Linked DNA regions of Homo sapiens. The protein of the gene in region 2 purifies or fractionates together with the protein of the main gene of each other region. This does not show direct contact. Each region holds a gene or a part of one and is shown on either strand. Other genes may lie near its edges.

Region 1 (3,357 bases), on a different chromosome or scaffold from region 2:
GGTGATTCTGACACATGCTTGAGAGCCATAGACCAGCAGTGGTTCTCAGCCCCTCAGAACCAATGGCCATTTTTATAACAAACAGTGGTAATGTCCTATTTATTATCCCCAAGTGAAATTCACAGATAACCTACCTACATGCCCAATTCCAATACAATTAACATAATGATCTGAGATAAAGTAGAAATGAAATACAGCAATTTACAGCTGTTTAACATAGTTCATCATGTAAGTGCTTAGGCAGTGGGGGGTGCAGAAGACACAATGTAGTCAGGTGTCTGCACTGATGTGAGGCATCCCTGAGGCTGTAGTAGCTACAGGGCAGCTGATACTGGGCATTGTGTTGGCGACTCACATACCATGGGCATCATTTTTGCCACTGGCATGGTTTTTAAAAACGGTGAACAATTCTTGATAAAGTTCTGAATTAAATAATGTGTAATCATTCCTTAATTTACCTAGTAGTACTTCTGGAAAATTCTTTGTATATTAAAACCAATGCAGAAATGCTTTTTTTTTTTTTTTCCCTTAAGAGACAGACAGGGTCTCACTGTTGCCTAGGCTGGCCTCAAACTCCTAGGCTTAGGCACTCCTCCCAACTGAGCCTCCATAGTAGCTGGGACTGCAGGCACTGGCCACCATGCCCAACTCTGCTTTGTTTTTTATATGTACCTGGAGTGGGGCTATTGGCTTGGATAATTATAAATAGGCTTTTCATGTATGGAAAACATCCGTGAGGCTTTTCATGCAGGGACATCTGAGAAGCACACAGGCAGGGCAGTTGTTTGTGGAGTAGGATTACCCTGAGCTCTGCAGTCCCTCAGCCGCCAACCTCGTTTGCTGGGGCAACCAAAAGTGCCACCACGGTGTCCCCAGTCCTCTCTAGAGAACAGTACTGTCCATTAAGAATCAGAATCTAGGGTCACCTTCTCATGCTGCATATGGGAAACTGAGGATCACAGCGGTTGAGGGACTAGCCTGGACCTTGTGTACATGGCAGAGTCGGGGCTGTGGCTCCTGCCAGCCGAGGTCCTCTGCTGGGCTGACCCAGCTCCTTCCCATGCAGCGTTTCAGTGTGCAGGATGTCATCTACGTGCGGGGCTGCACCAACGCCGTGATCATCTGGTTCATGGACAACTACACCATCATGGCGGGCATCCTCCTGGGCATCCTGCTTCCCCAGGTGGGCAGGCCGTGGGTTCAGAGAAAGTGTGACTTGGTGATTGCAGAAGGGCAGAGAAGGTGCAGAGGGGAAGAGCGAAGAGGCTTTTTTCATAGAAGTCCAGGACTTGCCTGGGGAGGGCTGCATGGCTGGAAGGAGGGGCAAATGGCAATAGCAGTCGTGGCGAAGCTCTTCCAAGTGCTGCGCAGGCACTGCTGCTTCACTTCTTTTTGTGAGGGAGGCACTATTATAATGCCTATTTCACAGAGGAGGAAACTGAGGAGCAGCAAGCTTCAGTGACTTGCCAAGATCCCCTAGATAGTGTGCAGCAGAGCTGGGGTGGAGGCAGGAATCCCAGAAGGGAGGGGCCCTTGCTGATGGGGCACAGCGAGGCGCTCTGGGATTTCCTGGGAAGGGGAGAGGGGGCCCAGGTGGGAGCTTCTTGGGCAGTGTGGGTGCTGGGAGAAGTCTCTGCTGTGGGTGTTGCCCAGGTCACACAGGACCATGAGGGCTTGGGACTGGCTGCTTGGGTTTCTGGGAGCCGGGAGCTGCAGGGAGGGCTGCCCTGATTCCCAGCAGGCCCTCACCAGCCCTGCCCCTTCTTCTCAGTTCCTGGGGGTGCTGCTGACGCTGCTGTACATCACCCGGGTGGAGGACATCATCATGGAGCACTCTGTCACTGATGGGCTCCTGGGGCCCGGTGCCAAGCCCAGCGTGGAGGCGGCAGGCACGGGATGCTGCTTGTGCTACCCCAATTAGGGCCCAGCCTGCCATGGCAGCTCCAACAAGGACCGTCTGGGATAGCACCTCTCAGTCAACATCGTGGGGCTGGACAGGGCTGCGGCCCCTCTGCCCACACTCAGTACTGACCAAAGCCAGGGCTGTGTGTGCCTGTGTGTAGGTCCCACGGCCTCTGCCTCCCCAGGGAGCAGAGCCTGGGCCTCCCCTAAGAGGCTTTCCCCGAGGCAGCTCTGGAATCTGTGCCCACCTGGGGCCTGGGGAACAAGGCCCTCCTTTCTCCAGGCCTGGGCTACGGGGGAGGGAGAGCCTGAGGCTCTGCTCAGGGCCCATTTCATCTCTGGCAGTGCCTTGGCGGTGGTATTCAAGGCAGTTTTGTAGCACCTGTAATTGGGGAGAGGGAGTGTGCCCCTCGGGGCAGGAGGGAAGGGCATCTGGGGAAGGGCAGGAGGGAAGAGCTGTCCATGCAGCCACGCCCATGGCCAGGTTGGCCTCTTCTCAGCCTCCCAGGTGCCTTGAGCCCTCTTGCAAGGGCGGCTGCTTCCTTGAGCCTAGTTTTTTTACGTGATTTTTGTAACATTCATTTTTTTGTACAGATAACAGGAGTTTCTGACTAATCAAAGCTGGTATTTCCCCGCATGTCTTATTCTTGCCCTTCCCCCAACCAGTTTGTTAATCAAACAATAAAAACATGTTTTTTTTTTTTTTTTTTTTTTGCCTTTCCTGTGTGCTGTTTTGTTGGGGCGGGGGTAAGGAAGGCTGCAACCTGGATTTGGAAACCCCTTGTGGATGCGAGGATGAAGGGGGTGCATGGGGTGAAGATTTGGCATAGCTTGGGATACAGGTGGGGGGTTGGGGGGAAAGCCTCAGGGCCAGAGGTGACCACGCCTATTTTACCGAGAACCGAGGGAAACAGCCTGGGCCAGGTACAGCATGAGGCTCCACCTCCAGGAAATGGGGTGGATGGGGTGGGGGACCAGGGAAGCGGAGTTGCCCACAGGTCCACCTACCGCGCTCCCTGCAGCCCTCAGTGTGCCTAATGGCTGCCGCGCAACGCATGCAGAGCGTGGTGTCGGTCGACCCCTGCTGGAGATGCCGGGACTTGCGTGCGTCAGTCCACTCAAACCTTCGGGCCAGAAGACATGGGATCTAGATTTTTTGTGAGGCTCTTAGTAGCCAGGGCAATAGAAATAAAGTAGCAAGAGGCCGGGCATGGTGGCTCACGCCTGTAACCCCAACACTTTGGGAGGCTGAGGTGGGCCATCACGAGGTCAGGTGTTCGAGACCAGCCTGACCAACATAGTGAAACCCCATCTCTACTAAAAATACAAAAATTAGCCGGGCATGGTGGTGCGCGCCTGTAGTTCCAGCTACTCAGGAGGCTGAGGCAGGAGAATCGCTTGAACCCGGGAGGCGGAGGTTGTGGTGAGCCGAGATCACACCACTGTACTCCAGCC
Region 2 (3,440 bases):
AAAAGACAATGTGGCCAGGCACGGTGGCTCACACCTGTAATCCCAACACTTTGGGAGGCTGAGGCCGGTGGATCACGAGGTCAGGAGTTTGAGACTAGCCTGGCCAACATGGTGAAACCCCATCTCTAATAATATAAAAATTAGCTGGGCGTAGTAGCAGGTGCCTGTAATCCCAGTTACTCGGGAAGCTGAGGCAGGAGAATCACTTGAACCCGGGAGGCAGAGGTTTCAGTGAGCCGAGATCGCGCCACTGCACTCCAGCCTGGGTGACAGGGCAAGACTCTGTCTCAAACAAACAAACAAAAAAAAAGTTAGTACTGTATATGTAAATACTAGCTTTTCAATGTGCTATACAAACAATTATAGCACATCCTTCCTTTTACTCTGTCTCACCTCCTTTAGGTGAGTACTTCCTTAAATAAGTGCTAAACATACATATACGGAACTTGAAAGCTTTGGTTAGCCTTGCCTTAGGTAATCAGCCTAGTTTACACTGTTTCCAGGGAGTAGTTGAATTACTATAAACCATTAGCCACTTGTCTCTGCACCATTTATCACACCAGGACAGGGTCTCTCAACCTGGGCGCTACTGTCATTTGGGGCCAGGTGATTCTTCCTTGCAGGGGCTGTCCTGTACCTTGTAGGACAGCAGCCCTGTCCTAGAAGGTATGTTTAGCAGCATTCCTGGCCTCTAGCTACCCGATGCCAGAGCATGCTCCCCCCGCAGTCATGACAATCAAAAAATGTCTCCAGACATTGTCAAATGCCTCCTGGGGGGCAGTATTTCTCAAGCACTTTTAAGCAAAGGTAAGTATTCATACAAGAAATTTAGGGGGAAAAAACATTGTTTAAATAAAAGCTATGTGTTCCTATTCAACAATATTTTTGCTTTAAAAGTAAGTAGAGGGCATAAAAGATGTCATATTCAAATTTCCATTTCATAAATGGTGTACAGACAAGGTCTATAGAATGTGGTAAAAACTTGACTGCAACACAAGGCTTATAAAATAGTAAGATAGTAAAATAGCTTATGAAGAAACTACAGAGATTTAAAATTGTGCATGACTCATTTCAGCAGCAAAATAAGAACTCCTAACTGAACAGAAATTTTTCTACCTAGCAATGTTATTCTTGTAAAATAGTTACCTATTAAAACTGTGAAGAGTAAAACTAAAGCCAATTTATTATAGTCACACAAGTGATTATACTAAAAATTATTATAAAGGTTATAATTTTATAATGTATTTACCTGTCCTGATATATAGCTATAACCCAATATATGAAAATCTCAAAAATTAAGACATCATCATACAGAAGGCAGGATTCCTTAAACTGAGATCCCTGATCCATCTTTAATATTTCAATTTGCACACATAAAACAATGCCCTTTTGTGTACATTCAGGCATACCCATTTTAATCAATTTGAAAGGTTAATTTAAACCTCTAGAGGTGAATGAGAAACATGGGGGAAAAGTATGAAATAGGTGAAAATCTTAACTATTTCTTTGAACTCTAAAGACTGAAACTGTAGCCATTATGTAAATAAAGTTTCATATGTACCTGTTTATTTTGGCAGATTAAGTCAAAATATGAATGTATATATTGCATAACTATGTTAGAATTGTATATATTTTAAAGAAATTGTCTTGGATATTTTCCTTTATACATAATAGATAAGTCTTTTTTCAAATGTGGTGTTTGATGTTTTTGATTAAATGTGTTTTGCCTCTTTCCACAAAAACTGTAAAAATAAATGCATGTTTGTACAAAAAGTTGCAGAATTCATTTGATTTATGAGAAACAAAAATTAAATTGTAGTCAACAGTTAGTAGTTTTTCTCATATCCAAGTATAACAAACAGAAAAGTTTCATTATTGTAACCCACTTTTTTCATACCACATTATTGAATATTGTTACAATTGTTTTGAAAATAAAGCCATTTTCTTTGGGCTTTTATAAGTTATATATTTTACTATTTTTATCTTATACATTCACTTTGCTCACATCCAAGACTCAATTTAAGAAGACTGAGGCTATAATTAATTTGCCATAAGTGTCCAGTCTATGTTTCTAGCAGTGACCACAAGGATCTTCTTTTGTAAGACTCTTAAACTGCCTTCGAAGTTTTGAGACAGTGTAAAGCATTGCTCCTCAAAGTGTGGCCCAGGGACAGATGGTGCTGCATCACCTGGAGCCTGTTAAAAAACACAGATCTCAGGGGCCACTCAAAACTATTCAAGTCAAATTGTAAGTTCTACAGCATCCCCAGGTGATTCATATTGCATTGAAGTTGAGAAGCACTGCTCTAAAGCTTACCTTTTGAAATAAAATGTGTGCTTGGAATAGAGAGGGAAAAAAAATCAGCCAAACTGCTGCAACATGCAAAAGCAGAGTCATCTGCACAGTTTAAAAAAAATCATAATAAGCAGGAAGGTTTAAATATTTTTAAAGAGTAAATATGCTGAAATAAATATGCTGTAAGTTATAAAGTAAGTACACGTTGGGCTCACAGACTGCCATCGCTGTACAGATGGCAGAGTAATGCAAAGACAGGGTGGAAAGTGTGTGTGTGCTGCCATAAATAGCGATGCACCAGCATCTCCATTCATGTCTGCGGCGCTCTCTCACATGCCTCCCTGCCCATCGCAGTTGTGCTGAGCCGTCTCAGGAGGGCAGCTCACTGCAGCACAACCATCAATAAGTGTGTCTGCTATATATCTCACATTAAAATACAATCTTGGAGAGCTGAATGTGGGAATTGCAGCTACTTGGGAGGCTGAGGCAGGGAGGATCCTTTGAACCCAGGAGTTCAAGGCCGGCAACATGAGACCCCCCCCCTCCCAGCTCTTAAAAAATAAAATGTTAGAGAAAGAGAGCACTAAGTTTTATTTCTTTGTTTTTCACAGAGCAGGTTAGGAAATGCTGTACAGGTTAGGAAGACCTGTATTAAAGCAATCATTTATATCCCATAGTTAACTGGAAAATAATTTTATACTTACTTTTTAAAAAGTACTTCTTTTTATTTATTCTACATCACTTGTTAAAAACTACAAATTGCATTTTCAAAAACTCCTTCCTGATCCTATCATAATCTTTTAATATTTTTAAGGTGTCAATTAAAGATTGGACATCATCTTACATAAAATCAGGGCCTAATTTTCATTTCGGAACCACTACAGCCTGACTTTAAAGAAAATGGCTACTAAACTGAACTTTTGGTTCTATGCAAAATTAAATCTAAGTAAGACTCAAGTTGCTAAGAGCAACTTTACTATAACTTTTACTATGGCTCTGGCTCTACTGCCCTCTGCTGGATGATCCACCGAACTACATCACACAAATCATTCTTGAGAGATCTTCACTGTACCAGGTGCTCAGTAACTGTGTAAGATGTCTAAATCACTTATTTCTCAAAAAAGGCTGAAAATATATTGTGACT
Region 3 (5,007 bases), on a different chromosome or scaffold from region 2:
TATGTTTAACTGTTCAAGGAACTGCTAATATGTTTTCCACAATGGCTGCACCACGGCATCCCCCTTTTCAAGACCCACACAGCTCTGTAGTTTTGATGCTCTCCCCATAACGTAACTGAAAGACTGCAAAGAACTGAATCCTGGTTTGCAGATACACTAAGCAGTTCTAAGTGCCTTGGTTGGTCCAGTTGGTAAGAACTTGTGTTAATGAGGTTAAGGTCAGGGTTCGATCCCCGAACTGACCCATTAGCTGAGCAGAGCGGACAGAGTGAAGAATTGTGTCTTCCTGCCACATGCTCCACCATCAAATCCTGCCCTCTTGCAAAAGCTTGTTAGTGGTCACAGGGGAATGGAGCAAGACTGTTTTTATGGTTCCACAGAAAAGGGGGGAGAAATCTATCATCCAAGGCCTCCTGAAGGCGCAGCAGGAGGAACTTGCAATCAGATGATTACTTTCTTCCAGTCCCGCTGTCACCTGGTTTCTGCGGGCCCCTTAAGTAAATTGCTTAACCCTATGCAGAGCCTCAGTTTCCTTATCCCTAAAATGGGAATAATAATCCTCACTCACAAGAGATAAGAATGCATATAAAAGCACTCTACACGCAGTTTTTGCTTGGTTCTTATGGGCTTCCTGTAAGAACCTGAAGGGTGGGCAGCCTCATTTTTCCTCGCAGCACCCCACTGGCTTCTGCAATCTGCTCTTTGCTGCTCTCCGGAGGTTGACTGAGCTGGAATGATGGCGCCCTGTTGACCAGAGGGTTGCTGGCTGTTTTAAATTGTCCTATTTGCATGGAATGAAGTTTGCTATGGTAACAAGGTCTGGTGGCTGGAATCCAGGGCCCCAGTGAAAAATGCAAAGCCTGTGGTCTGGGAGAGAAAGAGGAGCTGGAGAGGGCATATCAACGTCAGGTTACCTCAGTTCTTCTGTGAAGAGGGGATGGGTAAACTGAGGCAGCAGGGCTCAACTCTTCTGCTCCCAGTAGAAGAAAGGGAAGAAGCCCCATCGACGCCTTCCTTCTTATCTCTCAACCTCATCTCTGTCCCCGCCAATATTCAGCCCGGCTAAGAAGCTTAGGAGCTGGCTAAGGCTGCTCCTCCACCTGGATGCACACACAGGGCTAGGGCTGTGGAGAGGCGGGAGCACCAGCGGCCCACGCCGAGGAAGATAGGCGCTCCCTCCTGGGGTGGGCAGCGCAGGTCTGGCCTGCGGGTGGGGGGTGGAGAGTGAGAGGCACGCGGGGCACCAGCTCAGCTCCCCTCTGGGGATTTCGTACTCGCAGTTTAAGGAACCGGTGGAGCACGAACTCCACTCCTGAGCTGGCGCAAGCGTCTCCCTTCCATGGAGATCCACCCCGGCTCCCCTCTGAGGCCCCCTTTCCAAGCACCCTCTCTTCCGAGCACCCAGCACCTCCCCAACCTTAGCACGGCTCGGGGCACCAGTTCTCCAGGGCGGGGGCTGCCCCACCGCTCAAGGGAGGGGACAGAGGGCCGGCCTCGGTCCAGGCGACCCCTGCCCCTCGCCAGGGGCGCCACCTTGGCCCCCTCCCGACTGCCGTCCGCCGCCTCCGCCCCCCCGGGGGGTGTGTCTCCGAAGTACGGGGGCGCGGGAGGCCAAGGGTGCCCCCAGCCTCCGACCGAGACCCCCTCCCGAGCCGGCGGCGAATGGTAGGCTCCATTTAAAGAGTGCCTGGTGGCGCGCGGTGTCCTTCTTGGAGCAGCTCTCGGCGCCCGCCCGCCGGGGTCTCGGCGATCGCTGCTCCTCCTCCTCCTTCTCCTCCTCTTTTTTCTCCTCCGCCTCCTCCCCCCGCCGCCTCGCCACCGCCGCGGCTAGGGCTGGAGGCGCCGCTGTCATTCCTGTGCCGGAGGAACCGGCGCTGCCGGTGCCTGGGGGTCGGGGCGCGGGCGAAGCCGGGCCGCGGAGGACACAACAGGTAGAGCCGGGGGTGCCCGGCCGCGCGCCCCCCGCGCATCATGCAGCTCTTTGTCACCTCTCTCGCCCCCAGGCCAAAATCCTGAGCATGATGGAAGACAATAAGCAGCTCGCGCTCCGCATCGATGGGGCGGTCCAGTCGGCCAGCCAGGAGGTGACCAACCTGCGAGCCGAACTCACGGCCACCAACCGGAGACTGGCGGAACTGAGCGGCGGCGGCGGCCCCGGCCCGGGCCCGGGAGCCGCGGCCAGCGCCTCGGCGGCGGGGGACTCGGCGGCGACGAACATGGAGAACCCCCAGCTTGGAGCGCAAGGTAGGATCGCCCCGGCGCCCAGGGCGGAGGAAGGCGAGCAGAGCACGCCCGGCCTCGGAGGTGGCCGGGGACCCGGGGTCCCCCACACCCGGGGCGAAATCGCTTTGCATTCTGGCTTGTAACCCTTTCCGCCCGGCGGTGGCCACCGCTGCTCTCCGGCTGGGAGTTGCAGGCTGCTGTCATTCACGAAAACCCGAGCGCAGTGTGCACGGGGTCACACGGTCACACCGGCCCCGGCCAGCCTGAGCGAGGCGCAGCCGGCGGGTCCCTTCCGGCATCAGAAAGTGCCCTTTCCGTGGCACCAGCCCCCTAGCTCCGTGCAAACTTTTCATGCCGGGGCCTTTTCCCCACCCCCCGCAGGGGTGAATGGCACAGTTCCCCCCACTTCCTTAGGCTCCTTCCCAGAGAGAGCTCCGGGCTCTGCCGCCGTGGTTGGGATAGAGGATTGCACTGCTGTGCACTTTTCTCCGCGGATGCCAAATCCCTTGGCTCAGTTGCATCTGGACTTTATTTTCTTCTCATTTGAGGTCTCTCAGGCATTGGAATCTATAGATGCAACAGTAGATGCTCAGCTCAGCAGGGAGTTTAAATTTCCGCAAATATAAACACCGAGAGCACTTTCCAGGGGGATACTGTAGACCTCAAAGGTTGAGCGGTAGAGAAATGAAGGCTTAGGGTGGTGGGCTGCAGGGAGCCCGTTTGAAGGGACTCTGCGGTTTAGAGAAGAGGAAGAAAAAGACAGTTGGTTTGTGTTCACATTGACAGAGATTAAGCTCTGAAACCCCCTGCAAGACATAAAGGCGGATGGGGCATTCCCTAAAATGTACTGTTTGGTTTCTGTGACTTAGAAAGTAAAAGGGTAAGCAGGCTTTGGGGGATTTTTTTTTTCTTTTTGCCTAATTGCCCTTTAAGAAACAGTATCACTGGTTATTAATATCATTTGAATTGCAAATTAAACTGCTGAAATCCAGAACAGGACAGAAACAAATCTCCAGTCCATGAGGTCCACTTGTCTAAATATGTCACTTGAAGTGCAAGGTACCAATTGCTCAGTGGCTCAAAATGATTTTCTGGTTCTGTTGTCATTTCAAGAGCTTCTCTTGAGGGTTGAGAGAGTCTGTTTTCCTAAGAATCTGGTTCTCTCCATCAGTCTCTGTTTCCACCTTATCTTCCTGGGAAGGTGTGCTTTCTTTGAGGTGAGATGTGAAGCCTGCCCACGTGCAGTTTTATGTCGAATTCCAAGTCAGATCTTAACTTGGTACTCCCGGAGCCTGTTGGAAGTCTTAGGAATTGGGGGGAGTACTTTGGTAAGGAAGTAGCCATGACGTAATGGTGAGAAGGTGTTGTGGTCCTAGTGCTTGCTGCAAGCTTGACATGTGGTTATTCTTGTCATCCTTGCAATGTCATTGTGTGCGAAAGAACATTCTCCACTGGAACCTGTGCAAAAAAAAAAAAAAAAAAAAAAGACAGACTGCAAGGTAATGCTTCACTTTTTATAGGCAGAGGCTCTGCTAACATTAAAGAAATAGCTAAGAACTGGCATTTTGCTAAGAATCAAAAGCTGTATAGTAAAGGACACTGAACAATGCTCGTTTATTTCCCACTGTCTGCCCCTTTCTCCGCGAAGGAAAAGTTAAGTGGCTTTTTATCTGAGTCCTGGGTCTGGTTGTAGACTGGGCAGGCTAAGGCAGTCAACGCAGTAATGATGTCCACATGCTCAACTTGAAAACTGACATACTCGCGGATGGTTAAATTGTTGTAGTGGAGCAACAGGGGGCTGATTCCTTGTTCTTTTTTCCTACACAAATGCACAGGGCTGTGGAAATGAAAATGGCTTTTGGATCTCTTGGATATCCTTAAAAACACATAAAACCAGCAGCTCCCATACGCTCTCAGGACTGTGCCTGCCCATGTCAGTGGCTGGCTGTGGGTGGTAGGATGAAGGGTGGTCTTGATTTCTCCTCTTTGTACATTGGTATGTCTCAAAATCTTTCCTAGGGGCACTTTGTGATTTTTATAATCAGAAAATAAAATGTTCAAAGGTTTAAACTCTACTTGATTGTTGGCCGCATAACCGTCTAAACTGATATGCATTTCAACAGATGTGATGGTTGAAAAGAAAACAAGCCCCCGTATAAGTTCAGTGGGGTATCATTTACTTGTCTGTAGCAACAGTACTTGATACATTATTTAGCCTCTGTAAGTTTGGGGGATTTTTTTTTTTTGATGGGGGCGGGAGTTGTTTTTGTTTGTTTTTGTTTTTTTCATAGCCTGTGGCAGCATCCTGCTAGCACAGAAACCCTCTGCAGAGGTGGTCTGGTAGTTTCTTTTGCCATTGCTTTCATTATCCTAAAAAGAAGCCTTGAGTTCTCACACAAGTTAATTTTAAAGTGCAATTGATTGGGTTCCACTTGATTCTTCGTAATACACCTCCAGGGAGGCTCCCAGAGGCTCAGCTCCTCAGGGTTTCTGACTGTTCTTCCAAATTAGTCTTGTGTTTTCATTTTGTCTGTGTTGGTGCAGTTCAATGGGCCCAGACCCTAAGAGTGTTTAAGTGCTATTGAGTTATCAGTTTTCAAATCAAGGTTTTGAATAAAACGAGTATCTTTGCATTTCAAAATGCAACCGTGTAAGTCATCTTTTAACGAAAGGGCATTATGCACATATTAAATGCATGCTAATGTAACTTTAACAATATTAGTACAAATGGTTTTGGGAAAGAGTCACCTTTTGCTTCCTCTGCCAAGAGACTGTTAGATTCAT
Region 4 (4,108 bases), about 120 Mb from region 2:
GAGTTCCGTGATCGACCGAAAGGACTTAATAATCAAAAGGATTAAGCCCAAACCCCAGCAAGGAGATGACATCACAGTGGTAGACGTAGAGAAGCAGATTGAGGCCTTCCGCAGCCGCCTGATCCAGATGCTGGGGGAGCCTCTTGTCCCCCAACTCCAAGACAAAGTGCACTTGTTGAAGCTCCTGCTCTTCTATGCTGCGGACTTGAACCCTGATGCAGAGCCCTTTCAAAAGGGCTGGAGCGGCTCCTGAGGGCCTGCCAAGCACTGAATGCCAAGAATACCTCCTGAACTCTCTCTCCAACTGCTCAGAAGCTCTAAAAGCATGAAAAGTGGTTAAAATCTTACAGGACCAAACCTGCATTATTTAATCAGTAGGTTGTAATTTCTAACTCTAGTAAATATCTTTTTTTAAATAATCCTATCCTAGCCTGTTCTCAAATATGGCTTAAATATACAAGGTATATATATTTTTTAATAAATTATTTATCTATACTTTTTTGAAACAGGTTAATACTCTGTGCATCACATGTTTAACATTTTCATTCAAGATGTGGAAAAAATCCCTCTGCTGAACCTAGTCTATACACCAATATTATGTCATTCAAGGTACCGACAACCTGTTTCAGGAGAGAGACGTTCATTTTTCCCTAATGAAATGCAAGCATTCTGTTAGACCTATTATATTGCCTGTTAATTTGACTGTAATGAATAGGGGGTAGAAACAAAAGGATCAAGTGTGTTATAAAACATTTGATGTTAAAAGGAGACAATAAAAAGGCAATGGTTTTTCAAAATACCAAGTTCAGTGTGACTCTGGGTGGGTAGAGTGGAATAACTATTGTTAAAAGGACAAAAAAATAGCCACATTTGAGAAAGTAGTAAGGATTTTTATTGTCAAAACGAGATCATAATAGAAGACACAAATAAATTAATTGTTCTCATAATTTTAGACTCCAGGGCCTCTCTATGGAAAGGCCAGCTTCTTATACAGACAAGGTACTATCCAAAACAAAAAGCAGGTATTTGAGACAGTGTTCAAGACAACAAGTGAACTTGTACACAGTGAAGAGAAATAAAAAGGTGGCTTCTGTATTTCCCTCCCTCAGTAAGGTTATGTGTTGCATAAAGGGATGAGGCTCATTTTGGTGAAAAATGCTTTCATACAGAAAATTTTGAATTGAGTGACCTCCCCGCACAGGCGTTCCAGGCCCTGACCTGAACAAGGAAATCAAAGTAAGTTAACACCACTGGCTTCACATGAACCTCAAGACTATAATCTAACGGTATCTACCATCTCCTTTACTTTAAAAAAGTTTAATGTCCATTTACCTATACCAAATCAGTAGACTTAATTTTCTCTCTTAGGAAGTTTTTAACCAAATTACAGCTAAATTAATCTCACTTTAAAGTGCAAGAAAGGCTCTGCTAGAGTAGTGTTTGTTCTGTGGCATAGAAAGAGGAGCATGCCTCCTCCGGCACTGGCCTAAGAGGCCCCACATGAAGAACTAGCTGCAAGACAGTGATCCATTAGGTCTGCCAAAAAGCAGGGGGACTCAAGGTTCAGCCTAGAAAGAGGGGTCCCTGCCAAGTCTGGCTTTTACCTGTACCCAGGTCCCAAACAAACCTTGGGTCCCCTAACTGATAAGGCTGGAGCACAGCACCAGTCATCAACAGGGCCAAAGTCGTCTTAGCGAGTCAGTGAGCACCTCTAAGCCATGATTTGTCAATGCTCACATGGATAGTGGTAAAGGAATAAAGAAGCCTGGGTTTTGGAACAGTACAAACATTCTTTACCTAGTAAGCAGTGATCAAAGTTCTTACCTAGGGTAAATGATGAAAAAAATAGGTAATGAGGTCCCCATACACCCGTGCTGAGAATATTAGTCTAACTTTAAAGCAGTACAAAATGGCTTCTTCCACACAACAAGGGCAAGCTTTATACTAATGTTTCTCAAAAACCAATTACATCTCCAGCTCTAGCCTCAATTTAATAGGTTTTTTACTTTACTTTATTTATTTATTTATTGATGGCGTCTCGTTCTGTCGCCCAGGCTGGAGTGTAATGGCATGATCTCAGCTCGGTACAACATCTGCTTCCTGGGTTCAGGCGATTCTCCTGCCTCAGCCTCCCAAGTAGCTGGGACTACAGGCGCCCACCACCACGCCCAGCTAATTTTTGTATTTTTAGTAGAGACGGGGTTTCACCATGTTGGCCAGGCTGGTCTTGAACTCCTGACCTCAGGTATCCACCTACCTTGGCCTCCCAAAGTGCTGGGATTACAGGCGTGAGCCACCACGCCCAGCTGATTAAGTTTTTAAATATACCTTTCCTATGTCAAAGCCAAGGTAAAAGGGGAGTGGGATGCAAGAAACCACCTTTACCAGAATCCCTGGAAAGAGGGCTCTAGAAGCCAGTGGGTGTGAGCACATTCAGGTCACGGGGTTTGAGGTTATGGGCCCGTGGTGGCTGTTTCTTTCCTTCCATCACTGGGATGTCCATCTTGGGGGGCTTCAAGGCTGCTGGATCTTCAGCCATTCGGTTGGCCTGGGCACGTATCAGTTCCAATGGAGAGGGCTTCTGGGCTCCTCGGTAGGCCTGGGTGGCAAAACTTCCTACAAAAGTGAACCAGAGTGCAAATGATTTCAAAACCAGTAAACAGCTCCCGGTATACAATATGGTAAGATGTCTGCCATGCTGCTCTCTTTTTTGAAGGTGCTGCCTTACCAGAATCGTACTTCTGAAGGGATCTCGGTCCAAAGAGGCTCCACTTATCTGACAAGTTTCTGTCCTTATCCCCACTTCCAGAGTCCATGGTGCTAGGATTTGGGCCAGGTAAGGCTGTGGAAGAACCAGAAGTGAACCAGCCCCTGGGAAAGAAAGAACAAAACATATCCTAAAATACCTCTTCCTTCGCCCCTAGAAATGTCTCACACCAAAAGAACAGGGAACTATCCCTTCTCCCTCTGAAACCACAGGCTTAAATACAACCTCATCTGCCACACTAGCTTTCCTGAAGCACGCAGGAACTCGGAAGGGTCACAGGAAGGGCTCACCTGGGCCTCTGCTTAGGTGAAGAGTGCGGAGTGGTGCTTGGGGTGGACTGGGCTGATGCAGGCTGCCTCTCTTCTTTTGTTACCTCTCCACTCTGTAACTTTAGTTTCTGCTCAGATGGGTAAGAAGAGAGACTTTTTAAAAATGAAAGCAAATTCCAAACAGATAAGTCTAGGCATAAAAAATTTGGTTCGCATTCTAACTTTAGGCAGAAGACATCTACAGGTGGAATGATTTCGGATGATCTAACAGGTAGTCCTTTGTTTTTGCCATACTAGATGGAACTCCATCTCCTTAAAAAATGTGTTCATTCTACACTATATCATGAACATCCCTGTACTTAAAGCTTTACACTACAACTTTTACTTTCAGAAACGTGAAGTAATTTCCCCACATTCCCCCAGACAGTAAAATGGAAGAGCCAGAACGCTAGCTGCCAGCCTTCTTGGCCTTTTAAGCAGGGCTTAAGCTCTTGTCTCGCTGCTGCTCCTACCATGTACAAAGCCCTGCCCATCCTCAGTCTCTCCAAGCCAATACTCAGGCATGCTGCTTCTCTCCAGCTAAATGCTTCCTCTGAGGAGCCTGTTCCATTCTCTCCTCCTTCTCTCCCATAGTCAGCCACTCTGGGTTCCCTCAGCACCGTGAGCATTCCTCTGACTCGCAGTCTAGTGGGGAGAGACAGGTCTACATCTCAGCTCTTCTAGAGCAAGGTTCCCATGCTGTTTCCTCCCTCCAGGCCTGCCACGCCACTGCTTAACCCAAGCTGCACACCAAACAATGATCACGTTTGAATTTTCTCAAACGCTCAACAGATCCATTCATGTAAGTTGACAATCTGTTACAAGATGTAAGTTACAGCTAATATTTCAGCCATCCTCATGTTCTACTCCTATGGGCAAGACACAGAAAGTGGGTCAACCAAAGTCAATCCTACCATTATATAAGGTGAATTGCTCAAATAGAATTCTCACTGACCTATCCTGGAAAGTTCTCAGTTAAGGGTCAAAGGCTGCCGGTGCCCCTCTCTGGAAGCTTCTGTCTTGTTTGAAAGCT
Region 5 (4,506 bases), on a different chromosome or scaffold from region 2:
GGACTACAGGTGCCTGCCACCACACCCGGCTAATTTTTTGTATTTTTAGTAGAGACAGGGTTTCACCATGTTAGCCAGGATGGTCTCGATCTCCTGACCTCGTGATCCGCCCGCCTTGGCCCTCCCAAAGTGCTGGGATTACAGGCATGAGCCACCATGCCGAGGTCTTAACCCATTTATGCTGTAGGCTGCAATTTTGTGAATTTTTGCATGAGTGAAAAATCAGACCTTGGTGATGACCTTGAGCAGTAGGATATAAATAACTCCTACATGCTTAGTGTTCCAATAATGGAACACTAGGCATAAGTAGGTTAACACAGGATCAAACTGGCTTTCACATAACCTCTCCCTGTTTTGTTTTAAGGAAGTAGAAACACTGCTAGAAAAAGACTGGGCTGACTCTCTTGGATGGATGCTAAAGCTCTAAGGTCTTACAAACAATCCAAAGCAGAAGGGAAGAACCAGAAGAGAGTGCACAGCCAACCAGCAGACAAGAGCCCCACTAAGGAAGAGAACGCAAAACCAGGCAGCCCAGCCAAGAGAGCAAGAGCCTGGCAAGTTCTCCACATCGCACATCACACCTGTGTCTTCAGGCCACCAAACCCAGCACTGCAACTCCAGCTCAGAGCAGCAGCCACGTGCCTCAGACATCAGGAGAAGGTGGTCAAGGGGGATTCACCCGCACTAAACCAGCAGAAAGAGAAGGGCTGGACAGGACTGTCACTGTAAGGATAAGCAAAATGGATAAGGAAAAAGGGAAGTGCATTTATGCAAAACTATAGTGAAAAAAGAAAAAAGAAGCATAGTATACAGAAGATAGGTGAAGAATCTACTCGAAAAGAAAAAAACCCCACCAAAATAAAAGCATTCCTCGGACTATTTCACCCTACAGAAAAACCTAAAGAAAAGAACTCAAAAAGCATGAGGGTGAGATAACAGGAGATGAAAACGGAGCTGACAAAGCTAAGGAAATACAGAGAGAAGCCTTAGCTGAGCACTTAAAATAGTTACTGTTCTCTCCTCTGCACTCTCTACCCCATTACTTTGTATCATTAACTAACATCCCCTGTTGTATTTTTTACTGTTTGTCTACCTTCCACTAGAACATAAGCTCTACTGGAGCAGTCAACTTGTTTACTGTCCCCTAACTTATCCCCCTGTGTCTCCAGACAGCTCTGACATAAGAGTGAACTCTTAAAATTGCTGAATAAATAAGGAAAAGATGAATAATTAAAGCAACAAGAAAATAGTAGATGAGAACAAATAAAAATGATCCAACATAAACGTAACTGGTACTTCAAAATGAAAGGTCAAACCATAGAACATAAATAAATGCAAAGATTTAACAGAAAAAATTTTCCTGATTCCAAGCAAAACTTTGGTCTGCCTGTCAGAAAGGCACAGACTCCAGAAAACTTGATATGGAAAGATAAATACAGATACATCTGGGTTACATGAACTAAAAAAAAAAACACCTTATGAGGAGAGATTACAAAGGTTAAGTAAGCCTGGCCTCAGACTTCTCCAAGATATTCAGTGAAAGAAAATGATGGAATAGCATCTTCCAAAAAGAAACAAACTGTGACCCAAGAATATTAATCCAGCCAGGTCATCATTTAAGAATAGTCAATAGGCTCATATGTTTAAACATGAGTCAAAAGAAAATGTAGCCAACCAATAAGTAAAAGGAGAAGCTGCAGTAAGACTGGTGATAGGCAATGAATCGACTTTTTTAAAAAACAGATCAAAGACTAAACAACCAGTAAGAAATATGTTTTCAAAAGATAACTATTATAAAACTTGGTAACACAAAAATAACATTGGAACAAACAAGAGAGAAAGGAGGAAACTCATAGGAAGGAATATGAGTGTTTATTTTCTTCCCTTTCTAAACAGAGTCTATTAAGTCAATAAACAGGTTTAAGTACATTAATTAATGTTACAAAGAAAACCACTAGAAGGACTAAAATAAGACTATAATAAGCAAAACTCTAGAGGTAGGAGGAGGGAGAAGTTAAAGAAACCATATTAGCGTAAAGTTTCCCATTTTCCAGAGCAGGAACTCCATAAATACTGAATAAATTTCCTAATTCATGAAAGAGGGTAATGATATAAACATATAAAGTAATTAAAGGTAACTACCAGAAGAACTGAAAAAAGACAATAAGCTTCCAATAAGCTTCCAAATCCAAAGAAGGAAAGTATGAATGTATGAGCACACACAAAGAAAAAAAGAATCTATATCGCAAAATAGGACTAAGAAAATACTACAAATTAGGAGGAAAAACATAATTAAGGCCAAAATATATCTGATATCAATAAATATTGTGTGAAAATTCACACAATATTTATTCATATCAGATATAAGATAGAATAAGAAAAAATAATATGAGATATAAAAAAGAGTAAGACTCACAAATTGGGTCAAGTGACAAACTATATTTTCCAAAGACAGCAGCAACAATATCTCCTCTTCCACAAAGTCTTCTAGCACCTTCTTATTCCTTATCAAGAGCAGAGCCTAATTCCCATTTCCTTGAATGTGAGTGGGCAGCAGAAGCGATGCTATGACATCTTAGCTAGATTGTAAAAGCTTGCGAGCTAGAACACCCCACAAGTGAAGTACTGGGCTGCCACGTAAGCAGTCCCACCACCATGAGGCCACCATGCCATGAAGAAGCCCAAACGAAGGCACAGGGAAAAACATGTGGAGAGGCCATGGGACCTCATGAAGAGGAGATGGCTCACAACCCCCATCATTCCAACTACTGTCTGACTACAACTACTCAAGACCCCAAGCCAGAATCTCCCAGCAGAGCCCTTCCCAAGATCCTGACCCATAGAAACTGTGAGATAATGGCTGTTGTTGCTCTAAGCCACTATGTTTTGGAGTGATTTGTTAGGCAGCAATAGGTTACCAACCATTATTTCCAGAAAAGACCACTAATAATCTAGAAAACTGGTGGGAAGGGGTTTTTTAGGATCTCTTCTCCAGTATTATAGAGAAAGGTAAAGTTGGGAAGCAAAACTTGGGAATTACATGATGAAGCTGCCTATTCAAGATAGGTCCCTAATGATAAGGACTCAGTTGTAGTTGTTGCTTCCTATGATTACCATCAGACATCTTAATGGATTATTTGAAAGTTCTACACTGATACTCACCAACCACTTTACTCTGAAGGAGAAGAGTGCACTAAAAGCAAATATCACCCACAGTACTGGACAGGCAATAAGTCCCAACCAAAAGATTCTTGATTCAGCCTCTGACACAGTTTTATTCTCTTGAGAGGACTCCTATAAAAGAACATAAATTCAATTATCATGTTGTGAAATTTATCAATAAAAAGTTCAACATGTTTAATAAAAAACATATTACCCACAAGTTCAAATATTAATACACACAGCCCAACTCCTAAGTTAGAACCCAAAAATACATGACTATCACTCTTGTAATTTTAGGAACTGATCTATATTAACTCAAGAATTTTGCATTTTCAGGGCAGGATGGATGGTTTACCACAACTCATGACAGTAAAGAGTGGTCTCTGATAGGATTCTATTCAATTCTTCTTGCACTTGTACTATTTATTCATAAGGAAGCTCTAAATGATACCTTTCCTACCAATGATCAAGGAAATCACAGTTATAATCATTCTGGAGACTAAAAGGTCAAATTAGGGTCCAGAGGAAAAAAAAAAAACGGAATCAAGGGATTCTGGACAATAATCAAAATGTCTTAGCAATACCCAGGAAGTTACAAGGGTGGTAAGTTGTTTCCAAGGTAGATTCTATAATATAAAAGAATACAGGCTCATTGAACACAGTGCCACTTTCTTAAAATAACTTGTCAATACCCTTGGTGTACTGTCGCCAAGAATTTGGTCCTCTGCTTCCAAAACTTATTTCCACAAGGAAAGTGAATATTCACTATAGTGTAGCAGGCTAACCCAAAACAGACCAGGATCCCCAGGGCTCCTGAAGGCAGAAGCTTAGGAATAGAGTGCTCCGATCAGATATTCTATCCAGCTGCACTCCTCCTCCTTTTTCCTGCCCAGAAATGAAAGACGACCACAGGAGCAAAGACAGAACAAGATGTTAAAAGCAGTTATCTGCTGAGCATAGAGGGATTTATGGAGACACTAACAAAGGCAACACAGAGATCTTTTATCAGCAATCCCTGACAGGCAGCTTAGCACACTGTATGAACTCAGACCCAGTGTCTTCCCTCAAAGGATTCTGTTCTGTATATTGCTTGTTTCTGGTCTGAACTAGACAGAAAAATGCATTAAATTCTAGAAGGCCATCTCCTTTAGTGCTGACATGCCAAGTGATTTGGTATAGTGTTTTTAATTCTGAATACTTCATCTTCCAGTATTTAAATATAGTCTACAAATAATTTAGCTGATAACATTATTTAAAACAAAAAAGGCACTTTACCTTTCTAGATTCAAACACCCAATGGCTCTTTCCATCTTCATCAATGTGATTCCACCAACGTAGGCCAAC
Region 6 (4,506 bases), on a different chromosome or scaffold from region 2:
TATGTGACACAATATGAAAATCAGGAAGTTCACAATGGTGCAGTGTGTGTTAATGGTTCGCTCTCATTTTATCACGTGTTTATTTGCGTAACTACCTACACAATCAGGACATAGACCTATCCATCATAACAAACATCTCCCTCATGCTTATTCTTACTAGTCATACCGCCACCTCCCACTGTCCCTAACCTGGCAAGCACCAATTTGTCCTCCATATCTATAATTTTGTCATTTCAACAATGCTATATAAATGGAATGATACAAGATGTGACCTTTTGAGAAGGGCTTTTTCACTAAGCACAATGCCCTTGAGATCTATCCAAGTTTTTGCATCTATCAATAGTTCTTTTTTCCTTACTTTTTTTTTTGCTGAGTAGTAGTCCATAGTATGAATATATCACAGTTTGTTTAACCACTTACCTATAGTAGGACATTTTGGTTGTTTCCAAGTTTGGGCTGTTACAAATGAAACTGCTCTGAACAATTGTGTACAGGTTCTTGTGTAGACACAGTTTTCATTTCTCTGGGATAAATGCTCAGAAGTATGGTTACTGGGCTGTATGGTAAGTATATGCTTAGTTTTTAAAGAAACTGCCAGACTTTTCCAGAGTGGCTATTTCATTTTACATTTCCATCAACAATGTAAGAGTGATCTGGTTTCTCCACATCCTCACCAGTATCTGGTGCCACTATGTTGTAACCATTTTTAACTGAAAAAAACAACAAACAAACAAAAACCAGTTAAAAAGTTATCTGCACAAAAAGGTTAAATGGGGCAGGACTCTTACTATGGAGTATAAGTTCTTTTCTAATAAGAATACTTACTTGTCACGGACTTTGAGGATTTAAGCATTAGAAACCATTTTTACTATGTCGTGATTTTTGCAAATACAGGCATAAATGAGAAACAGAATTTGCTCAATAGAGAAGTGAATTCTACTTAATAGAATGCAGATAATAGTGACCATTCTTTGTGCCTTTTTAAATTTTTTGGAGGACTAGGACTGAATACATGGAAACACTATAAGATATAGTTTTATATACCTCTGTGCCTATGTATGATATAGTCCATTAGAAGGAGCACTGGACTTGAAATTAGAAAGCTGTTTTCTAGACTTCACTGTTTAATAGCTTAAGAAAAGTTGGATAAAAAACTCAACCTATCTGTCCCTCAAATTCTTCTTAGTACAGTAAAGATGGCATCACCATCATGGAAATGTTTGAGATATAAATAATACCTCTCTTACTTAACAAAATTTTACTAAGTGCCTACCATGTGCCAGTCACCGTACTAGGCATCACAGATTCTGTGATGAATAAGACATTATTGCTGATTTCAAGGAAGTGGTTGCAGTACAAATATGAAGAGTGAAGTGACCTAACATTTATTTGCACATGTGCCACATACTTTATGTAAGTCGTGTCCTGTTATCCTCTCAAGAACTCTAGGAGATAGATGGAGTTCTTACCATTTAACAAATAGGGAAGCAAAAGAGATTCAAGGTATTGTTCAAGGTCAGAGTAATAGCCAAGAATTAAACCTAGATCTCTTTGGCATCAAAACCCAGTATTTTTACCACCGTAATATGTGGTTCATGTGAAAACACCTTGTAAATAACTAAATACTGAATGCAAATACTAGTAATCATAAAATTTATCATTAATATTTCTGTTCTATTAGCAATACAAAAACTTGAAAACTTAAAGTTTATTTTTCTCTAAGCTATTAGAGTTTTGTTTAGAAAGGTCAGTTCAAGTTCCGCAGTGTTGCCAATTCCATTATTATCAACAGGACATATGGTCTGTTTATAATGAAGACATGAAGGCATTGCAAGATCTTTGTATTAGTTTTCTAGTGCTGCATAACAACTACAAATATAGCAGCTTAAAACACTACCCATTTTTTAGCTCAAAGTTTTGTAGGTGGCAAGCCTGGTCATGGCATGACTGGGTTCTCTGATCAAAGTCTTAAAAGACTAAAATCAAGGTGTTGCCCAGGGCATACTTTATTTGGAGTTTGGGGTCTTGTTCTAGGCTCACATAATTGTGACAGAATTCAATTCCTTGTGATTGTAAGACTGGGGTCCCTGTTTCTTTGCTAAGTATCTGCCAAGGAATTGTAGCAGCTCCTAGAGATTGCCCTCATTTCTTGCCCCATGGCCCCTTGCATATTTAAAGCCAGCAAAGGAGAATCTTCCTCTTGTTGAATCCCTCTCACATATTGAGTTTATTTTGCCAGGAAGAACCCAGACCCTTTTAAGAGACCACTTGGTTAGGTCAGCTCTCTCTCCCTCAAAAATAATCTCTCTTTCTTAAAGTCAGCTGATTTGGGATCTTAATTACATCAGCAAACTCCCTTTTGCTGGGTGATATAATCATGAAAATGAAATCCAATACATTCACAGTCCTAGTCTCCCACACACAAGGGGAGGGAATTATAAAAGATGCATGGCTAGGGCAGGGGTTTTGGGACCACCTTAGAATTCTGGGTTTGATTAAATAAATAATGGGACTGTAGCCTAGCAAGTCGACACATCAGAAAAGCCATCACAATCCTGAAACATCAAGTAAAAATTTGGTTTGCATTTTAGGATTGTAAATGTTACTGTGGTGTATGCGTGTGTGTGTGTGTGTAACCTGGTGTTCCCTATGTTTGTGGGAGTTTGAAGGAGACACTTTGTTGATAGGAATGGTGTCTTCACTTTTTTAGGTTGTCTCATTTTTGTACAGTGATAAGACAAATGAGGTCCTGGGTTTTAATAACACTTCAGCTTGAAAGCAAAAATTAAACACTTATTCATTGACTACACCCTTGTAATATCACTTCTTTGCCTTTCCACTAGCAAGAAGTTCATTTTCGTGGAAGCCATTCTGCCTGTCCAGGAATTGGAGGAGAGTGATAGACACAGTTGTCAGCCATAGCTTGGGTAGAATAAGGATGTGAATGTCCTTGGCTTATCTTTATTAATCTTGTGATGGAAAAATATCTGACATTGTTCTTAGTCCATTTTAAGCTTAATTTATGTTCTTAGTGGCATAGAAATTCAGAGCTGAAAGAAGTATCATGTCTCACTCTCCCCTTGAGGAACAAGAGTTAACGTCATCTGACAGTACTACCATAACAAATCAATAGCTTAATAGGCATATAAGTGGCTTTATATAAAATGTTGGTTTTTTTCCCCCAGCATCTCAGTTGGTTCTTAAATATCTAATTCCATGATCCTCAAACTTTTCCCACTGTAACAAATTAGAGAGAGGAGGAACATGTTCATCAGTGACTGTAGTTCAAATACAGCAGAAATGTGCAGCAGTGATTTCAAACTGAGAGAATCCTGGATGCCCTTCTCCATTGTGTGCCCCCCCCCCCCACCCGCCCCACATATCAGGGAACAATTTAAAATCCTGGCACAATAATGAGAAGGGAGAGTGACAAACTGATAAGTTCCAGTTAAGAATCACTTAGACAGGCCAGGTGTGGCAGCCCACGCCTGTAATACCAGCACTTTGGGAGGCTGAGGCAGGTGGATCACCTGAGGTCAGGAATTTGAGACCAGCCTGGCCAACATGATAAAACCCTGTCTCTACCAAAATTACAAAATTTAGCTGGGCATGGTGGCGCCTGCCTATAATCCCAGCTACTTGGGAGGCTGAGACAGGAGAATTGCTTGAACCCGGGAGGTGGAGGTTGCAGTGAGCTGAGACCACACCACTGCACTCCAGCCTGGGCAACAGAGTGAGACTCCATCTCAAAAATAAAAAAAAAAGAATCACTTAGACAGTATTTTTTGTTCTGTAATCTTCCTCTCTGTCATTGAAATGTCTCATATTTCTTGTTTCACATAGAATCTGGGAGTCATCAAGTAGTCATCTAGTCTATCTCATCATCTAATTTACGAATTATTTCTATCACACCCCAAGTAGCTGGCGATTCAGATTTTTTACTGAAAGCTTGACATGATGAGACATTATTACTTCCCAGAGGATCTTGGTCTGTTATCAGGCAATTTCAGTTCTTCCTTAAATCAAGCTAAAACTTGCTACTATTCTCACTCACTGGGAGGGCTGTAGTATTTCTCTCAAGTTTATACCTCTCTGTGATGAAAATCTCTGTTCTTTTAGCCATTGCTCATGGTTTCGGGATCCCCATTCTAGTCATCTTCCTTTGGAGCAATTCCCTGTTAGATCTTCAAATGTGATGAGTAAAACTGAGCTCAGGACTGCGTTTGTTGGTCACACCCTTCTCCCTTCCAAATGACTGCTGCTGTAACTTTCTGACAGGTCCTGCTTCCCTGTAATCCATTCTCCATGTGGCTGCCAAAGAAGATTTGAAATAAGTCAGGTTATTTTTCTTCCCTATTTAAAGCCTTCCAGCCGCTTGTCATTGCTCTTAGAATAAAATCCAAACTCTCCCAACAAGCTTTTAAGACTCTACATGGTCTTGCCCCAGCAAACTCTTCCCATTTGATCTCATCACTGAATTCCAGTCACAATGGCCATCCTTTGGTT
Region 7 (4,506 bases), on a different chromosome or scaffold from region 2:
CTTCCTTAGGCACTCAGGACTGAGCAGGGTTATGTGGTTTTGTTCAGTGGCAGCAACATTTCGTCCTGGAGTAAGCTGCCCCTTAAGTGGGAAATTAAGCCCTGATTCATGTCCTCAGCCGACTTCACTGTTTTATTAGGTCCTAATGGGTGCAGGCTCCCTAATAATCCCTTTCCTGGCATTATTCCTGACTAGTTTGCATGACACATTGATGGAGCTTTGTGGACACACCTCGAAATGCATGACCCAAGCCCTGGAAGGACCATGTTGTCTTGGGATGCTGTGTGCTTTAAACGGAAATACTACAGTTTCATGTGATTTTCTTTTTGCATCATGGAATGTAATGTTTAGAAGTAGCTGTTGGTCCGGAAGGTCTTCAAATGGTTGAGACTTGATATTTATTTAACTCAGAGAAGTAGAGAAAGTGCATCCCAGGGAAGTGAGGAAGGGGCTTGTGTAGTAGCCTTTGACTCCGGCCCCATTTAAGAACCACTGAATTTAACCGCTTGTTTTAATATATTTTAATTGGAAGACTGACTTTTTAAAGTTGAAAATGTAAAACACATGCACTTGTTTTTAAACAAACTCAGAGTAGAAACAAATATGATGAAAAGTTAACCTCTAAAATTTTTGGTGGTAATGGATATATCAACTATATATCCATTGATTGTGGTGACATTTTTGTGATGTATACAGATGTCAAAATTTATCAAATTGTATACTTTAAAATGTGCAATTTATTGTATGTCAGTTATACCTCCATTATTGCGGGATCTGGCCAGCAGCCTGCAATGCAACAGGGATCTCTCTGTTCCCAGGCGGATCGGCAGGTCGAGAAATAATAGACACACACAAGATAGTGAAAGCTGGGTCCAGGGGGGTCACCGCCTTCTGGTCACGCAGTGCCAACAATGCACTGGATATACCAGAATTTATTATTAAGTTTAGTGAGGGTGGGGGTAGGTTAGTGAGGGATTTAGGTCATTTGATTATGAGGTGAGATGGTCACATGGGGATGAAGTAATTCTTTAACATAACATCTGTATGCAAAAGTACAGTATACAGGGATAAGAATTTACAATATAGTGTGTGCTTCAGTAATTTCTAACAGAGCCTTAAAACAGAAACACAGTCTTTCCACAACCTATGATTAGCAAGATATTAGTCAGCAGTAACAGTTGCAGCAAAAGCCAGTTACAAACAATCCATAGAAACAGGACGTGAAGCTACACAACCAGTTAGACCAGAAATTCTCAGAAGGGAGTATGCCTTAACCCTAAAGAGGTCTAGAAGAGCCGTGGCAAGATGAGGGCATTTATAGCCCTGTCTTATACATATGGACAGGTGCCCCTCATGTGTCTGTTTATAGGCTCTCCACAAAGGTCGCATTCTATTCCCAGAGCTATGAACATCTGCTTTTCTGGGATAGGAATCTTGGTGATGTGAAACCTCCCTGACTGCACGTCCATTCATAGGCTCTCTGCAGGGGGAAGCACATCACGCACTGTTGGCTCATTCTGGCAGTCCAACCTGGCATTGTCTTTACACAATCCTGCATGCAATTTTGTATTTCCAGTAATCAGGAGCATTTCATCTTTTATTCCATAGCAATAGTTTCAGGGGGTCTCCCTGCGCTCCATAAAACAAAACAGATCTTTAAAAAAACTATTAGAATGTAGAGATCAAAACTTTGAAAAAGTAAGCTATAGTTAGCCCACCCATAACCCCAGTTGCCTCCTTCAGTCACTACCACTGTCGTTAGTGTCTTATTTACCCTTCTAGAATGTTCTTGTTTCTCCTTCTAGAATGACGTGCCCAAGCCAAACAGATCTTGTTCTAACTGAGCCCTGCTGTACAGCTGCTCTGCCCTTCTTCCACCTAACACCACAGGTCTCATCAGTTGTTTAAATCACGTGCCAACACATCCCTACAAACCTTCAGCCCTAATTAATTTGGAAGATTTTATATGGGCCATTTAGGTTCAGTTTGGCTTAAAAATAAAGTCTAGGACAGAAAAGAAGGTCAGAGCTGGCAGAAGCTGGTGTCGTTCGGCGGGTGTGAGTGTAGGTGACTGCTTGCCTCCAAGTTGGGATGTTCTAATTCTTTCCTGTTTGCTCTAGTGGCAGTGCTGTGGGGCTTTTGGAGCTGATGATTGGAACCTAAATATTTACTTCAATTGCACAGATTCCAATGCAAGTCGAGAGCGATGTGGCGTTCCATTCTCCTGCTGCACTAAAGATCCCGCAGTAAGTGAATGCCAGCGAACTATTGGCCTACTCTGTACATCATGCCGAGAGTGTGCATGGGACGAGCAGAGTGATTTTTTGGTTGAACCCTCTTCTTACCTGGTTACTCGTATTTGTAGCTCCTGTAGGGGGTTATGGTGCTCAAATCTTCCTAGTAGGAGTAATAATTGCTGGCATTAATTTAGCAGTGTGTGCTGGTTCCTATTCTAAGCCTTTATGTGTGTTGGCTCATTTAAGTTGGGCACATTCCTACTGGCAGATACCACCATTACCCTCCCTTTTCAGGGGAAGAAATCAAGGCACATGAGGTGTAAGTGACTTTCCCAAGCTTGCACTGCTAGCAGGCAATGGAGTGGAATATGAGACCCAGGCAACTTGCCTGTATCATCTGTTAGCCTTTCTTCATGAGAAGGGCAGGCTCATATGAGAGCTCTCTGCATTGGTTTGGGGTTAGTAACCCTTTTCTTTTTGGCTTAGTTCTAGGGGAACTATTAGGAGTAGGAGGAGAGTTTGAGACAAGATAGGCCTGGACTGCTGTGTAGGAAGACCACAGCTGCCCAGACTCCTGAATGTCATCATGACTATAGTCATGCAGTTTGCATTTTATTATAAAAAAGAATAAAATATAAAATCTATTTGTAAGTCACTCACTTTTGCCACAGGTTTGATTATATTTTGTGTCAAATCGTGCCTGGTATATAGAATGACTTAAAATGCAATTCTTAAGCCAGGCATAGTAGTTCACACCTGTAATCCCAGCACTTTGGCAGGCTGAGGTGGGAGGATCCCTTGAGCCCAGGAGTTAAAGACCAGCCTGAGCAACATAGTGAGACCCCATCTCTACAAAAAAATTAAAAAATTAGCCATGTGTGGTGGCACACACCCGTGGTCCCATCTACTCTGGAGGCTGAAACAGGATCACTTGAGCCCAGGAGTTTGAGGCTGCAGTGAGCCATGATCATGCCACTGCCCTCCATCCTGGTGACAGAGTGAGACCACAATTCTTAAAAAAAAAAAAAAAAGGTAACTCTCTAGTGTTAGAATGACAAACATGAGAGGTTACTCCACGCATCTCTGTGTGCTCCTAGCTGCAGAACCCTTCTGGGACTCCTCAACTGTTCTCTGGCCCTGCAGTCTCCAGATGTACTCCCCAAGGCTCGCCCTTACCCCTCAGAAGCAGAGCCGAGTGGGTGCTGATGAGCTCAGTGGGGATGCTCCTTCTTATGGTGGAGGCTGTGGGGCTCTTAAAAGGAGCTATGGTCTTGGAGTGGAAAAGCAGAACTTCCCTGTGGGCTTCCTCCAGGGGACCACCTCAGCTGTTTCTCTTGGTCTGAAAGAGGAGACAAAGTCACTAAGGACTGTGCTGCCCCGCCAGCTGCCCTTCCCACCAGCTCAAACCTCCTCTCCCTTCTGAGGAGAGCCACATGGCAGCAGAGTGCCCACTCAGAGCTTGAGGGGCTCATCCTGGTGGCCTTGCACTGGCCAGCGGGTGCCGCACAGTGCGCCTCCTGTCGCCAGTTCCTGTCCCACATTAACACTCCCTTGGGAGAATTCTGTATTCTCAGAGGCATTAATGCTTCCCCTTTCACCTACAGATCCTCTGGGCAGAGCTAGCTCATTCCTTGCGCTCTAAGCTAATAAAATCTGCCCCACACCCCGCAGAGAAGGAAAATAAACAACCCGAAAAAGTGGAACCATGTTTCTGATCAGACCCTGTGAGACGTCAGGTTGTCTGTGTGATTATGTGGTCGGGGCATTGTTTTGTTTTTTAATTATTAAAAGCTCATTGAAAAACAATTTAAGTAACATGGAAGTACATAGATTAAAAAGTAGCAGTCCATCCAAAAGAGCATACATGAAGATTCACTGTGCCCTTTATGTTTTTTATCTGTGTCTCCAGTTCCCTAAATCCCATAAGCTTCTTGAGGTTGGCACCACTTTGAATCTTGAGCCTCCTGTGTGATAGACTTGCTGTCTTTTCTGATATTCCCCAAGCCTTAGTTTTCCTTATTTGTAAAATAGGGCATATTTTAATACCTACTTCTGAAGATTGTCGCAATAATGACATGGGATCATGTATATAAAGTGTTTAACATAGTGCTGCAGTCTTTGTGCCCAGATACACATTTTATTACTAATGCGTAACAGAAGTCTTCTGCTCATTTCTAGGTGGGCTTTCTGTCTAATGAGTAAATTTCACTTTTCTCTTTCCTTTCTTCACCAGGAAGATGTCATCAACACTCAGTGTGGCTATGATGCC

Evidence for each region.
Region 1: the proteins of ITGA2 (region 2) and TSPAN15 purify together in Homo sapiens (co-immunoprecipitation; one large-scale study listed by IntAct). This does not show direct contact.
Region 3: the proteins of ITGA2 (region 2) and KAZN fractionate together in Homo sapiens (co-fractionation; one large-scale study listed by BioGRID). This does not show direct contact.
Region 4: the proteins of ITGA2 (region 2) and KIAA1191 purify together in Homo sapiens (co-immunoprecipitation; one large-scale study listed by IntAct). This does not show direct contact.
Region 5: the proteins of ITGA2 (region 2) and TVP23B fractionate together in Homo sapiens (co-fractionation; one large-scale study listed by BioGRID). This does not show direct contact.
Region 6: the proteins of ITGA2 (region 2) and CD47 purify together in Homo sapiens (co-immunoprecipitation; one study listed by IntAct). This does not show direct contact.
Region 7: the proteins of ITGA2 (region 2) and TSPAN5 purify together in Homo sapiens (co-immunoprecipitation; one large-scale study listed by IntAct). This does not show direct contact.

What each region holds. Positions count from the first base shown.
Region 1 is NC_000010.11:69,505,058-69,508,414, forward strand, and holds the end of TSPAN15 (tetraspanin-15), read left to right. Parts: intron 1-1,066; coding exon 1,067-1,183; intron 1,184-1,771; coding exon 1,772-1,921; 3' UTR 1,922-2,609; downstream 2,610-3,357. UniProt on the Homo sapiens protein: Part of TspanC8 subgroup, composed of 6 members that interact with the transmembrane metalloprotease ADAM10.
Region 2 is NC_000005.10:53,092,816-53,096,255, forward strand, and holds the end of ITGA2 (integrin alpha-2 precursor), read left to right. Parts: 3' UTR 1-1,964; downstream 1,965-3,440. UniProt on the Homo sapiens protein: Integrin alpha-2/beta-1 is a receptor for laminin, collagen, collagen C-propeptides, fibronectin and E-cadherin. It recognizes the proline-hydroxylated sequence G-F-P-G-E-R in collagen.
Region 3 is NC_000001.11:14,596,980-14,601,986, forward strand, and holds the start of KAZN (kazrin), read left to right. Parts: upstream 1-1,705; 5' UTR 1,706-2,003; coding exon of another isoform or gene 2,004-2,018; coding exon 2,019-2,244; intron 2,245-5,007. UniProt on the Homo sapiens protein: Component of the cornified envelope of keratinocytes. May be involved in the interplay between adherens junctions and desmosomes. The function in the nucleus is not known.
Region 4 is NC_000005.10:176,345,193-176,349,300, forward strand, and holds the end of KIAA1191 (putative monooxygenase p33MONOX), read right to left. Parts: intron 3,165-4,108; coding exon 3,058-3,164; intron 2,872-3,057; coding exon 2,729-2,871; intron 2,617-2,728; coding exon 2,408-2,616; 3' UTR 870-2,407; downstream 1-869. Other genes in the region: SIMC1 (SUMO-interacting motif-containing protein 1), read left to right, coding at 1-253. UniProt on the Homo sapiens protein: Potential NADPH-dependent oxidoreductase. May be involved in the regulation of neuronal survival, differentiation and axonal outgrowth.
Region 5 is NC_000017.11:18,797,600-18,802,105, reverse strand, and holds part of TVP23B (Golgi apparatus membrane protein TVP23 homolog B), read right to left. Parts: coding exon 4,438-4,506; intron 3,295-4,437; coding exon 3,163-3,294; intron 724-3,162; coding exon of another isoform or gene 721-723; exon of another isoform or gene 677-720; intron 1-676.
Region 6 is NC_000003.12:108,073,574-108,078,079, reverse strand, and holds part of CD47 (leukocyte surface antigen CD47 isoform 1 precursor), read left to right. Parts: intron 1-4,506. UniProt on the Homo sapiens protein: Adhesive protein that mediates cell-to-cell interactions. Acts as a receptor for thrombospondin THBS1 and as modulator of integrin signaling through the activation of heterotrimeric G proteins.
Region 7 is NC_000004.12:98,476,425-98,480,930, reverse strand, and holds part of TSPAN5 (tetraspanin-5), read left to right. Parts: intron 1-2,120; coding exon 2,121-2,246; intron 2,247-4,470; coding exon 4,471-4,506. UniProt on the Homo sapiens protein: Part of TspanC8 subgroup, composed of 6 members that interact with the transmembrane metalloprotease ADAM10.